2 separate regions of the Homo sapiens genome follow, and region 2 is linked to region 1. Evidence: fine-mapped expression QTL. A gene starts in region 1. The other region holds a variant in brackets. All regions are shown on one strand. Distances are between the middles of the regions.

The links. PIP is the estimated chance that this variant, and not a neighbour inherited with it, causes the effect.
Region 2: its variant is the best candidate, but not a certain one, in a credible set for the expression of CYP4F11 in gastroesophageal junction (GTEx, PIP 0.52).

The regions. Positions count from the first base shown.
Region 1 is chr19:15,931,939-15,936,194 of GRCh38, reverse strand. CYP4F11 (cytochrome P450 family 4 subfamily F member 11) reads left to right here and starts at 1,666. Exons shown (of 12, transcript NM_021187.4): 1 at 1,666-1,984. The coding sequence starts at 1,787.
Region 2 is chr19:15,882,085-15,886,340 of GRCh38, reverse strand. It overlaps CYP4F2 (cytochrome P450 family 4 subfamily F member 2), which reads left to right. Exons shown (of 13, transcript NM_001082.5): 8 at 33-99; 9 at 288-417. Among named protein-coding and RNA genes, the nearest start is that of CYP4F2, 14 kb to the left of the region's middle. The variant T/C (reference allele first, on the strand shown) is at 2,421.

The DNA of each region.
Region 1 (4,256 bases):
ACCCAGCACCCAGAGTAGGCACGCTTTATGTAGAGCACTTGACACACAGTAGGTGCACTTGACATAGATCACCAGGCACGTAGTAAACATGCTCTACATAGAACATCTGACACACAGTAGGTGTGTTTTATATAGAGCAGCAGGTGCAGAGTAGGTACACTTTACATAAGTTACTCCGCACAAATTTCACTTTATATAGAGGACCGAGAACAAAGAAGCAAGATTTTCTGTAGAGCGCCCAGCACACAGTGGACACACTTTTCATAGAGCACTTGGCACACAGTACACAACATGTATACAGAGTACCTGGCACATGGTAGGTGTGCTTTATTTAGAGTCCAGTACACAGTAAAAGAACTTTGCATATTGTCTTTTGCAAAGAGCAGAGACTGACACACAGCAGCTAAAGTGCTAGCTGCCAGCCCCTTCCCTTCACTCCCTCCTCAGAATCTTTCATCTGTCCCCATCTAAGGCCCATTTTCCTGTGATCCCTCCTCTGTCCCCCTCTAAGGCCTTATCTGACATCCCATTTCCCAGATGGGAAGCCTGAGTCCAGGAGGGGCTCACTACCCACAGTTAGGGCAAGGGGAGGGCAGAATAAGGACTCCACTCAGGGTCCCCCATCTCTGCCCTCCTGTCCCTGGCCCCATCCACTCATGGCCCCTCTCAGCCTTACCTCCCATCTCCCCTCTCTGTCCTCCTATGCTGAACCTAGCCTCCAGGTATTCTCCTCCAGCGGGGCTCTTTATCTCTAAAATCTGACCGGGTAATCCCCAGCACAGTTAGATAGTTTGTTCCTACTCCTGTCAGTCATGTCTCGACCCAGGCCCTGGGTTGCCTGGAGGCAGGACTTGAACTCCTGCCAGACTGTGAAGCCAGAGGCCAGGAGCTTCTGTCTCTGAATCTCCTAAGTCTGCACTGAGAAATGGTGCATGATGAACTCCTGGACCACATGTGGAGAGGAGCTCAGAACATGATCTGGCACAATGGTTGGCCTGGCCCCACTCTCTTGCCACCTGAACTCTCAAGTTCATGACTTTATCTGCCACACTCTTGCCTTGGAAGGGCAAGGTGGCTGTAAACTTTGGGGCTCAGAGTCACCTTTGACTCTTCCTCAAGATCCCCTCCCACTCAGGTGTGAGATGTTGAGACCTGCGGATCCTGTGCCCATGCTGTGTCACCCTGAGCTGGCTCCTCTGCACCCAGCTGGCCCTACGCCAGGTTTTGGTTGGTTGCCCAGGCTTGGAAGACACACCCAGTCCATGGGGATTGGCTCGACCAGCCCAGCCCAGCCTCGCCTCCCACAGCCTTCCGGAAATCAGGGGCCAGAGGCAAAGACCTCCTAGCAGAGGGGGAGAGGAGGGTATGTGGGACAAGCTGCTTCTGATAGGAGCCAGGCTGGCAGTGGCAGGGCTGGAGGGTCCTGGCCTGGGATGGGGAGGGGACTGCCCAAGGTTGGGGTGGGTCAAGGCTGCTGGCCTGGGAGACTGGTGATTTCCTGGTAACTGGACCCCTGGCAACCTCCCAGTGATTCAGGCTGGGCCTTTTTGGATTCTAATCAGCCTCTCTCTCTCTTTCCCTTTCTGTGTAACTGGAGGCCACTTGGCTGCTGGTTTTCATTGGGCATTTCTGGACTTTAGATCTCAGCTCTTGTTTACCCATCTCAGAGCCTTCCCTGATCTGCCTCCAGCACTGCCCATCCTTGCCCCTTTCCACTGTCCTTGGAGCTTCCTGGGCCCTTCCCTGGGCCTCAGGATCCCACCCTCCATCCCGTCTGCCCTGCAGGATGCCGCAGCTGAGCCTGTCCTGGCTGGGCCTCGGGCCCGTGGCAGCATCCCCGTGGCTGCTTCTGCTGCTGGTTGGAGGCTCCTGGCTCCTGGCCCGCGTCCTGGCCTGGACCTACACCTTCTATGACAACTGCCGCCGCCTCCAGTGTTTTCCTCAACCCCCGAAACAGAACTGGTTTTGGGGACACCAGGGCCTGGTGAGTTTGTCAGCAGGACGGGTCTGGGGTCTCAGGATGCATGGAGTTCCTGAGGGGCAGGAATGGGGCTCAGGGAGCTGGGTTTTGAGGGTGGCTGGGGTGTGGGAACACAGAGAAGAGAGGGAGGCAGCTCACTCATTCCTCTGCCCACTCACTCATTCCTCTCCCCGCTCACTCATTCCTCTGCCCACTCACTCATTCCTCTGCCCACTCACTCATTCCTCTCCCCGCTCACTCATTCCTCTCCCCGCTCACTCATTCCTCTCCCCGCTCACTCATTCCTCTCCCCGCTCACTCATTCCTCTGCCCACTCACTCATTCCTCTTCTCGCTCACTCATTCCTCTGCTCACTCACTCATTCCTCTCCTCACTCACTCATTCTTCTCCTCACTCACTCATTCTTCTCCTCACTCACTCATTCCTCTGCTCACTCACTCATTCCTCTCCTCACTCACTCATTCTTCTCCTCACTCACTCATTCCTCTCCTCACTCACTCATTCTTCTCCTCACTCACTCATTCTTCTCCTCACTCACTCATTCCTCTCCTCACTCACTCATTCTTCTCCTCACTCACTCATTCCTCTCCTCACTCACTCATTCTTCTCCTCACTCACTCATTCTTCTCCTCACTCACTCATTCCTCTCCTCACTCACTCATTCTTCTCCTCACTCACTCATTCCTCTCCTCACTCACTCATTCTTCTCCTCACTCACTCATTCCTCTCCTCACTCACTCATTCTTCTCCTCACTCACTCATTCCTCTCCTCACTCACTCATTCTTCTCCTCACTCACTCATTCCTCTCCTCACTCACTCATTCCTCTCCTCACTCACTCATTCCTCTCCTCACTCACTCATTCTTCTCCTCACTCACTCATTCTTCTCCTCACTCACTCATTCCTCTCCTCACTCACTCATTCCTCTCCTCACTCACTCATTCCTCTCCTCGCTCACTCATTCCTCTCCCCGCTCACTCATTCCTCTCCTCACTCACTCATTCCTCTCCTCACTCACTCATTCCTCTCCTCACTCACTCATTCCTCTCCCCACTCACTCATTCCTCTCCCCGCTCACTCATTCCTCTCCTCGCTCACTCATTCCTCTCCTCACTCACTCATTCTTCTCCTCACTCACTCATTCCTCTCCTCACTCACTCATTCCTCTCCTCACTCACTCATTCCTCTCCTCACTCACTCATTCCTCTCCTCACTCACTCATTCCTCTCCTCACTCACTCATTCCTCTCCTCACTCACTCATTCTTCTCCTCACTCACTCATTCCTCTCCTCACTCACTCATTCCTCTCCTCACTCACTCATTCCTCTCCTCACTCACTCATTCCTCTCCTCACTCACTCATTCCTCTCCTCACTCACTCATTCCTCTCCTCACTCACTCATTCCTCTCCTCACTCACTCATTCCTCTCCTCACTCACTCATTCCTCTCCTCACTCACTCATTCCTCTCCTCACTCACTCATTCCTCTCCTCACTCACTCATTCCTCTCCTCACTCACTCATTCCTCTCCTCACTCACTCATTCCTCTCCTCACTCACTCATTCCTCTCCTCACTCACTCATTCCTCTCCTCACTCACTCATTCCTCTCCTCACTCACTCATTCCTCTCCTCACTCACTCATTCCTCTCCTCACTCACTCATTCTTCTCCTCACTCACTCATTCTTCTCCTCACTCACTCATTCCTCTCCTCACTCACTCATTCCTCTCCTCACTCACTCATTCCTCTCCCCGCTCACTCATTCCTCTCCCCGCTCACTCATTCCTCTCCTCGCTCACTCATTCCTCTCCTCACTCACTCATTCCTCTCCCCGCTCACTCATTCCTCTCCCCGCTCACTCATTCCTCTCCTCGCTCACTCATTCCTCTCCTCGCTCACTCATTCCTCTCCTCGCTCACTCATTCCTCTCCTCACTCACTCATTCCTCTCCCCACTCACTCATTCCTCTCCCCGCTCACTCATTCCTCTCCTCGCTCACTCATTCCTCTCCTCGCTCACTCATTCCTCTCCTCACTCACTCATTCCTCTCCTCACTCACTCATTCTTCTCCTCACTCACTCATTCCTCTCCTCACTCACTCATTCTTCTCCTCACTCACTCATTCCTCTCCTCACTCACTCATTCTTCTCCTCACTCACTCATTCCTCTCCTCACTCACTCATTCTTCTCCTCACTCACTCATTCCTCTCCTCACTCACTCATTCCTCTCCTCACTCACTCATTCCTCTCCTCACTCACTCATTCCTCTCCTCACT
Region 2 (4,256 bases), 50 kb after region 1:
GGGGTTGGGGGGGGTTACTGCCTTCTCTCCAGGATGAAGACGGGAAGAAGTTATCTGATGAGGACATAAGAGCAGAAGCTGACACCTTTATGTTTGAGGGTGAGGGCCCCAGTGTGGGGCTAGAGAGGGGACCGGGATCTCTCCCTTCCAGGAACAGGGTGGGTAGACCCCCACAACCTTCCCATCCCCCTTCCCCCATCCTCCCTGAGGCCCTCAATGCATGGGTGCTGTCTACCTTCGGGTGCTGAAGCAGCCCAGAGACCCAAGCCTGCCTTGCTGCCCCCCAGGCCATGACACCACGGCCAGTGGTCTCTCCTGGGTCCTGTACCACCTTGCAAAGCACCCAGAATACCAGGAGCGCTGCCGGCAGGAGGTGCAAGAACTTCTGAAGGACCGTGAGCCTAAAGAGATTGAATGGTGAGTGCAGGTGCTTGTGGCCTCTTCCTGAGACCTTCTCATTGGCTCTGCTCCCCAGGTGGGGAGGGGAGGAAAAGCTGTTTTTGTTGATTCTGCCACTATTGCCTAGTGGGAATAGGAGCAGAGGACCACAGGCAGGACTTAGTACCCATCCTGACTGTCTGGGGAAAGGTTATAGGCCCTTAGGACAGAAAGACCTGGGCTTCTGAGAGAGTTGGTGATGATATGTGAGGACAGATAACGCCACTTAGACGTGTTCAGCAAATGAACTTCCCCTCCACTCTCTTCCTTTCCTCCCAGAAATATCATTTTTTTTGAACATCTTCACTTCTTGAATGTTTGCTCTTCTGTTCCCTAATTCCTACTCTCCAGTCGAGTCCAGGGTTTTATAAGGGAGACCTAGGGGTAAAATTCATCCATTCTTGTCCGGAACACTTGCACTGTTCATCCGTCCCATCCTTATTCAGCAAACACTCCCACACTGCATTTTCACCCCCACATCTGTGCACAGCATCTTTCTGTGCTCTGGAGACCTGGGAAGGAACCAACCCAGGGATCTGTTTTCCAGGTGCTCCCAGCCTGGTGGTGGAGCTGTCCCTGGGCAGGACACTCCCAGCCCACATGGGCAGAGATGGGATTTACAGTAAGAGAAGCAGGACTAGGGGGTATAGAAAGTGTCTCAGTTGAGAGCCTAAATAATGATCAGTAGATAATTGGGTACAGTTGGGGGGCAGTGCTCTAGGTCAAGAAGACTGCCTGGGGTCTTTGGGGGAGGAAGAGAGAGGGAGGAAGAGAGAGAGGAGAGCGAGGGAGAGAGAGAGAAGGAGAGAGAGAGAGAGCAGGGTCAGGACAGAAAGGAGGAGAAGGGGAGAGAGAGGGAGAGACTGAGTTGTAATGAGATGATAAAACCGGAGATGGTAGCAGGGGCTGGCTGTGGAAGCCTTGGGGAAAATGTTAATGGCTTCAGTTTTAGCCCAATGGCAATAGGGAGCCATGGGAAGTGTTTGAGCAGTGTAGGGACAGGTCACATCTGGGTACCAGGAAGATCTTTCTAGGGCTAGTGTGGAGGGCGTACTGGAGAGGACCAGCTGTAGAATGAAGGCACAGTGGGGACATTCTGAGACCAGAGCCAGGCCAGGGGCTGGAGGAAGGAGAGGAAGCATTGGAATGGACGGATGTCTTGGATTCAGTGTCCTCTCGTCCACACCTTTGCCCAGCACAGCAGTCCAGTGAGGAGGAGAAACATTTTTCTGCTTTTAAAACCAATAATTTTTCTGCATTTTTAACAAACAATTTTTTATTGCTGCATAAATAGATGCACATAGATTTGAAATACATGTGATAATCTAATACATTCATATAACTGGTAAAGATCAAATCAGTGTACTTGGGATATCTGTCGCCTGAAATATTTAGTCTTTTCTTTATGCTAGAAACATAACTAACATAAGCTAACTATTTAGGAATATACAGTACATATCGTAAACTATAGTGAACCCACTGATCTATCAAGTGCTAGGTTTTATTTCTCCTATCAAACCTCTTATTTATGCCCGTTAATCAACTTCTCCTCACCCCTCCCTCCCTTCTACCAATCTACCTTCTACTTTCATGAGATCCACTTTTTCAGCTCCCACATGTGAGTGAGAACATGCGATATTTGTCTTTCTCTTTTTGGCTTATTTACTTACCACAGTGACCTCCAGTTCCATCCATGTTGCCACAAATGACAAAATTCCAGTGTTTTTAATGGTGCATAGTATTCCATTGTGTATACATGCCACATTTCCTTTCTTCCTTCCTTCCTTCCTCCCTCCCTCCCTCTCTCTCTTTCTCTCTTTCTTCTTTCCTTTCTTTCTTTCTTTGAGACAGAGTCTTGTTCTGTCGCCCAGGCTGAAGTGCGGTGGCACGATCTTGGCTCACTGCAACCTCTGCCTCCCGGGTTCAAGCTATTCTTCTGCCTCAGCCTCCCAAGCAGCTGGGACTATGGGTGCACACCACCA[T/C]GCCTGGCTAATTTTTGTATTTTTAATAGGGCTGGGGTTTCACCATATTGGCCAGGCTGGTCTCGAACTCCTGACCTCATGATCTGCCTGCCTCGGCCTCCCAAAGTGCTGGGATTACAGGCATGAGCCACCGCACCCGGCCGCCACATTTTCTTTATCCATTCAGTTGATGGGCACTTAGGTTGATTCCATATTTTGGCTGTTTTGAATAGTGCTGCAATAAATACGGAAGTATAGATATCTCTTCAACAGTTTTATTTTCTTTCTTTGGGATAGAAATTTCTTCTCTTTCTTTTCAGTAGTGGAATTTCTGGGTTATATGTTAGTTCTACTTTTAGTTTCTTGAGGAACCTCTGTGCTGTTCTCTGCAGTGGCTGCGCTAATTTATATTCCTGCCAACAGTGTGTGAGAGTTCCCCTTTCTCCATATCCTCACCAGTGTCTATCGTTGCCTGTCTTTTTGATAAAAGCCATTTTAACTGGGATGAGATGATATCTCATTGTGGTTTTGATTTGCATTTCTCTGATGATTAGTGACATTGAGCATTTTTCCATCTATCTGTTGGCCATTTGTATGTCTTATTTTAAGAAATGTCTATTCAGATCTTTTGACCATTTTTAAATAAGATGATTTGAGTTCTTTTTCCCCTATTGAGTTATTTGAGCTCCTTATATAATATATTCTGGTTATTAATCGCTTGTCAGATGAGTAATTTGAGAATATTTTCTGCCATTCTGTAAGTTGATTCTTCACTTTGTTGACTGTTTCCTTTGCTGTGCAGAAGCTTTTTACCTTGATGTAATCTCATTTGTCTATTGCCTGTGCTTTTGAGGTCTTAACACAGAAAATCTTTGCCTGGACCCATGTCCTGGAGTATAAAATCCAGATTTCAAGCAAAATTATGGATGTGGTTAAAAGAAAGGGTCCAAAAAATTTTATGATAAAAATGAGCTTCCTTATTAAGCTCCACCTTAGCAGTGACTATGGTCAACAGTTTTCTGTGTATTCTTCCAGAAAATGGCTATCCCAATGCCCACATTTATATGAATTCACACTGTGATTTTTATTTATATGAACACATACTGTGTTTTTCTTTGTAAAGAAAACTATACAAAATAGACGCAGTTCTGGACATTATCTCTGAGATCTATTTTTCTTAAAATACGAGTTTTCAAAAATGAGTTTGTTTTTAAATTGTTCTTTCATTGATAAATTTTAATTATATATATTAGAGGTACAATGTGATGTTATGATGTATGTATACAACCTGAAATTATTAAATCAAGGTAATGAACAAATCCATCACTTCATATATTTATCATTTTTATGTTGAGAACATATATATATTAGAGGTACAATGTGATGTTATGATGTATGTATACAACCTGAAATTATTAAATCAAGGTAATGAACAAATCCATCACTTCATATATTTATCATTTTTATGTTGAGAACATTTGAAATTTACTCTCTTAGCAATTTCAATTAATACATTGTTCACTAAATCACCATGCTGTGCAGTAGATCTCAAAAACTATTCCTCTTGTCTAACTGAAGCTTCTATCCTTTGACCAACATCTCACCCTTCTCTATCCCTCCCTCAGCCCTGGCCTCTGGTAACCATCATTCTGCTTCTATTTCTTTTCTTTTCTTTCTTTCTTTTTTTTTTCATTTTTGAGATGGAGTCTCGCTCTGTCACCCAGGCTGGAGTGCAGTGGCACGATCTCAGCTTACTGCGACCTCTGCCTCCCAGGTTCAAGTGATTCTCCTGCCTCAGCCTCCTGAGTAGCTGGGATTACAGGCTCCCGCAACCACGCTTGGCTAATTTTTTTGTAT